2 linked regions of the Homo sapiens genome follow. The protein of the gene in region 1 purifies or fractionates together with the protein of each later gene. This does not show direct contact. Each region holds a gene or a part of one and is shown on either strand. Other genes may lie near its edges.

Region 1 (3,500 bases):
TGCAGTCATCACAGAGGCAGGCTGGTCCGCCTTCGAGGTGAGTTGCAGGCAGGCTGAGCAGCAGAAACCATGTGGTAGGTGCCCATGCTTGAGCAGGAATGGGGGTGGACCCCATCTAGGTCGCTGCCGGACTAGCCGCAGTGATGCCTGACAGCTGGAAAATGTCAAAAAGTAATCAAGAGGGAGCCCAGGATCGGGGAAGTAGGCTGGGGTGTCAGCAAAGGCTATTGTCTGGCGGGGGGCCGGTATCACACAAACAGCCCAAGCCCTAGGCACAAATACTCAATGAATTCAGCTCTGGGGGCTTTGTGGCTAGCTCTGAGGCTGGAGGGCACTTCATCCCCGTCTAAATCCTTCAGCAAAGCACTTTGGGGTGGCCCAAGATTCCAGCCTGACTGCAAGGTGACTGTGGTTGCTAACACGGCAAACTCCAGGAAGAGTACCTTGGTCCAGCCAGTGAGGGCTGCTCCCAGAGCTGACTTCCCTTCCCTCCCTTCGTGGTTTTACCCCACTCGGCCTTTGTGTCCCTGAGGAGCGCATCTTCCCCAATGTGCATGCGCATCAAAGCGTTCCTACTCTGCACTCGTTCCAGCTCTACAACATCTCCAGATTCGGAGGATCAAACTTGTACCCCATAGTCTCAGAGCAACTGAATCTCGGCATGAACAAAGGGAATTAGAGAATGCTTTCCCTTAAAAACAAAATCCCTATCCCTGTGGCTGATCCACGGAGACATACACACACCCTTGGAGACAAGACCTCACAGCTACAGCCCTGTCCTCCCCAAAGAAACTAAGATACAGACCAACAAGTACACACAAGTACATACAGGGATATTCACATATAGGGTAGTAAATTCCCTGTGTAGGGAATGCAGCCAGTGAGATAGAGCCAGGTAGAAGGGCTCTTCTCACAAAGCTGCTGCACAAACCCTGGCCACAAACTTCTGCCTGGCTCAAGGCTTTTTCCCTCCATCACCAAGTCAGCCCGTTATGCTGCCAAAAGCATATGCCCTAGTGCTCTTGAAGGCCATAGTCTGATGCCAGGGATGCTTAAGCTGGGCACTGTTTGGCCACAGTGACACCAGGCAGGGCCGGGGGACTTGGGGTCAAGTGTATTGACATCCCACTGAAATGCAGGGGCAGGTGTGCTACTGAAGTCGGTCCCTATGAAAATGCTGCTCAATTTTGCCTGGTGGGTCACACTTGCCCTGACCCCTTTGCTTATATGTCATGGGGCTCCATCTTAATGAGGGAAGTAGGGTTGAATGGGGAGAAAGGGGCTGGGGTGGGGGATCTTGTCAGAAGGCTCCCAGATGTGGTCACACTAGGCTCAGCCATCAGCAGGGACCCTGAGCCTGAGGAGAGCTCAAGTTCAGCCACTGGGGTCAGCCCAACAGTGGGGCGGCTGGGAGGAGACAAAGTCTGGTTGCCCAGAAGGCTCGGATTGTGGGAACCCCTGGAAACCACCTGGGTTGGAAGTGGCTGAAGATGAGCCTGATCTCTCAGGAGCTCCCTCAGGGTCTCTTCAGGAACCAGCAGCCCCTCCATGGGGGCCCCCGTCACCATACCCTGAACATAGGAGGAGGACCTCAGTGGCCCCTCCTTGACCCTAGGGGCTGCTGTAGTGCCAGAAGTCCTGATGAAGGCAGCAATGACAGTCCCAGGGGGCTGAGAGCTGGGCCCTGCTGGTCCAGCCCCTGTGACCGTGGGTGGCGCCGGGTTGGTCGGACGGTTGGCCCCAGCCAGAAGTTGGGGGAGGCCACTGAGAATCAGTGGAGCCCCTGGGGCTGCCACCTGGCTGTCTTGGAAACTGGCGTTCAGGGGGAAAGAGGCCTGCAAAGTGAAGGTGTCCTTGAAAGTAGAGGCCGCTGGAACACTCTGGAGAACGAGCTGAGTGGGAGCAGTAGTACTGGCAGGAGGCCCATTGGTCAGCACCGTGGTCAGTGGGATCGTCTGCAGGGTCAGGGCCGAGCCCGACCCCACGGGGGCCACTCCTAGGTGGATGTTGCTGGGCACTGAAGATGCACTGAGAAGAAACAGAGAACAGAGTTGGTTAAGGCAGGAAGTGTCCCTCAGCTGGTTAGGAAGGAGGGCACGAGAGGAATGGAGCTGAAGGTGTTTGTCGATTTATTTGCTGTTTGTTGTTTTTTTCTTTTTCTAGAGACAGGGTCTCACTCTGCTGCCCGGGATGGAGTGCAGTGACACGATTACTGCTCACTGCAGCCTTGAAGCCCTGGGCTCAAGCGATCCTCCTGACTCAGCCTCCCAAGTAGCTGGGACTACAGGTGTGTGCCACCACACCCAGCTAATTTTTAATTTATTTTTTTTTTTGAGACGGAGTCTTGCTCTGTCACTCAGGCTGGAGTGCAGTAGTGCAATCTTGGCTTACTGCAACTTCTGCCTCTGAGGTTCAAGTGATTCTCCTGCCTCAGCCTCCCAAGTAGCTGGGATTATAGGCGAGCACCACTACACCCGGCTAATTTTGTATTTTTAGTAGAGACAGAGTTTCACCATGTTGGCCAGGCTGGTCTTGAACTCCTGACCTCAGGTGATCCACCTGCCTCGGCCTCCCAAAGTGCTGGGATTACAGGTGTGAGCCACCATGCTCAGCTGTAGCTCACATTTATTAAGTACTTAGAATAGGTATATAGGTCAGGGATCATTCTAAATGATTGACATGTGGCATTTCACTCAATCCTGAAAACAGCCCACAAGTGGGATAAGAACAATCTGATTTTACAGCTTGAGGAAAGTGAGGCACAGAGAGGTTATGTATTAATAACTTGCTCCAAGACCAGCCATACCTATGTTATCCTTTGATTTCTTCCAAGTGGGGATGCTGGGGTCTCACAAGGCCTTGATGTGAGTCCCCGCTCTAGTGATTACACAGCCAGTATACATAGTAAGCACTACAGCAGGGCCTCACAACTAGGTCTTGTGATCCCAGAGCTCATCTTCCTCACCATTCCACTCTACTGCCTGCCCTCCTCGAAAGGGTGTCTCACTGCGCCAGCGTAGTGACTGCCTGCCCTCCTCGAAAGGGTGTCTCACTGTGCCAGTGTAGTGGGAGGTCCAAACACATAACCCAACAAAGTCCAACCTTCTCAGGGAAAATCGGAGGCCCCTTAGTGGGGATGAGAAGTAGTTGGAGCTAGCCGGGTGGGCCTGGAGGTCCCAAGGGGCTCACAGCAGGCAGCTCTAAAACATTCTCTGTTGCTTCTTTTCTAGAATGGAGGAGGCTTAGGAGGATGGGCCAGGACACGGACGCCCTGGTGGCTCCCTGGGGAGCCCCTCTCGTGTAAGCCCCCGGATGTGTGACCTCAGGCAAGTGACTTCCCCTCTCTTGACCAACAAGTGCCCTACTGGCTTTTCCATGGCTCTGGGAGGATCCCATGAGCCTGGCGACAGAGTAGAGCTTGGCAAGAAGTTGAAAACTGAGCCCTGCTAGGCACGGTGGCTCACATCTGTAATCCCAGCACTTTAGGAGGCCAAGGCGGG
Region 2 (2,367 bases), on another chromosome or scaffold:
CATCTAGACAGAAAAAAGCTAGAGGCTCAGAAAGCAGGCAGAGCAAAGTAGCTACTCCCCAAATCCTAACCCCTCTCCTCTGTTAGGTGGCCATGCAATTACATCTATAATGGACCACAGGACAAGTCAATATAGACTTATCTTCATAGAACTACTTATAGTTGCCTGTCTTCCTCTCTCCCTGCCCCTCAAAATGGTGCCCATATTGTCTACTGCAGCTGGAAATTGGAAAAGATGGAGAGGGGAGTTTACTTTCTATTTTACAGCAAAAACAAGATAGTCCTGAAACAGATCAGAATAAAGGAATGTAAAAACCACATTTTCTTTTTCTTGAGATGGTCTCTCGCTGTCACCCAGGCTGGAGTACAGTGGAGCAATCACAGCCCACTGCAGCCTCGACTTCCTGGGCTCAATCAATCCTCCCACCTCAGCCTCTAAAGTTCTGGGGTTACAGGCATGAGCCACCATGCCTGGCCCACATACAGCTTTTAATAGAGTAGACTTCAGAGAGTAAAGTTACACTCTTAACTTCCAATGTTGGTTCTACTTTCTCAAAGACCCCTTCTTATGCAACCATATAACCTGCCCCTGGGCTCTGTACATCAGAAAGAAATGTTCAAACTATCTCCTGTGCCATCTCACAAAGGTGGTTGCTGACCCTGGGCTTAGAGTACATCTTGGCTGTCCATTACAGCTTTAACTCACCAAGACATGGGCAGCCCTGAAGAGGTAGCTGAAAGGGTAATACAGCAGGTTGATGAAAGATGCTGCATAGAGGTCAGCATAACGCATCACTTGACTGGCAAAAAGGGTCTGCCGGGAGCCACTGCGAAACAGGCTTCCCATCATCCCATAGCACATGTCCATGTCATGAGTTACTTTCTAAAACAAAGAACAAGATTGATTCTTGGCTCATTCAACAAATATTTATTGAGCAGTAGTTGAATGCTAGTCTCTATAATAAATCAGGAATGTGAAAAAAGCATTTAAACTTATTTCCCAAGTTTTCTCCCAAATCCCATTTGGATACCTTAATACGTCTCTGGATGGAACTGATGTCTGGACGCTCATTGCTACTGCTGTCAAGATGCCTAAAGATAAAAGAAAAACTCAGTGAAAATCTCTGGGAAGAGCTTTTTTTTATTCTTTAAGACAGTCTCATTCTGTCACTCAGGCTGGAGTGCAGGGGTGTGATCGCGGCTCACTGCAACCTCTGCCTCCCAGCTTCAAGCGATTCTCCTGCCTCAGCCACCCTAATTAGCTGGGATTACAGGCATGTGCCACCACACTCAGCTACTTTTTGTATTTCTGGTAGAGATGGGGTTTCGTTTGCCATGTTGGTCAGGCTGGTCTCAAACTTCTGGCCTCAAGCAACCCGCCTGCCTTGGCCTCCCAAAGTGCTGGGATTACAGGCATGAGCCACTGCGCCTGGCCTGGAAAGAACTTTTTTTTTTTTTGAGACGGAGTTTCACTCTTGTCGCCCAGGCTGGAGTGCAATGGTGCAATCTCAGCTCACTGCAACCTCCATTTCCCCGGTTCAAACGATTCTCCTGCCTCAGCCTCCCAAATAGCTGGGATTACTGGCCTGGAAAGAACATTTCTTATATCTAAGTGATTCCTGAGTAAGTTTTTGGGAAAGAAATTTTTAGAAAACTTACTTGTAGAGTTCAGCCAAGAAAATATCCAAGCTCTGAAGTTCTTCGAAAAGTGCTAGTTAAGGTTTGGAAGGAAAAGGAAGACATTTTAAATAAATAAGCACCTAGTTCTTAACTGCTGCTAAACTAAAAGGTTGCAGATGTGACTGGAAAGTAGAACCTGGGACTAACATGCTGAGTGTACAGTTACCTCCTCTTCCCCTCTTCAGGATAACTCACTGATACCTGCTTGGAGTCTGACAACAGATGAACACCATCACCTTCTCTTTAACTGCCTTTCCTCCTGCTTAAACACCATGATGACAACTTTCCCTTCCAGCTGCACGCTCATTCTGAGCTTGTAAAGTACCAGAATTTACATGCTGTCTCAGGTGCAGTCAGCTAAGCAAATGTTAACAGTCCCATTTTCAGATGAAAGATTGAGAATCAGGTGACTTTTCCTGAGTCACAGGTCCAGGGCCAAATCAACTAGATTTCTAAAACTTCATAGGTAGAAAGTTGAAAATGTGAATGAAAGGCTAGCCAGAAAATCCCACTGATAGTACAGACAGTAACAGCAACAGCCAGCATCTACAGCATGCTGCCGGTGTGTTGCAGCCTTTGTCAGTCTGGGTTCCTCAAGACAAGCCCTCCTTCATCTACTGTATGTAACACATTTTCTTCTATCTACCATCTTTAGGAGAATTGAGAAAAGTGTTACTCAAATAATTTT

Evidence for each region.
Region 2: the proteins of ELF4 (region 1) and NT5C2 purify together in Homo sapiens (affinity purification with mass spectrometry; one large-scale study listed by BioGRID and IntAct). This does not show direct contact.

The regions. Positions count from the first base shown.
Region 1 is NC_000023.11:130,065,498-130,068,997, forward strand, and holds part of ELF4 (ETS-related transcription factor Elf-4), read right to left. Parts: intron 2,029-3,500; coding exon 1,224-2,028; 3' UTR 1-1,223. UniProt on the Homo sapiens protein: Transcriptional activator that binds to DNA sequences containing the consensus 5'-WGGA-3'. Transactivates promoters of the hematopoietic growth factor genes CSF2, IL3, IL8, and of the bovine lysozyme gene.
Region 2 is NC_000010.11:103,089,906-103,092,272, forward strand, and holds part of NT5C2 (cytosolic purine 5'-nucleotidase), read right to left. Parts: intron 1,711-2,367; coding exon 1,659-1,710; intron 1,092-1,658; coding exon 1,031-1,091; intron 883-1,030; coding exon 706-882; intron 318-705; exon of another isoform or gene 4-317; coding exon 1-3. UniProt on the Homo sapiens protein: Broad specificity cytosolic 5'-nucleotidase that catalyzes the dephosphorylation of 6-hydroxypurine nucleoside 5'-monophosphates.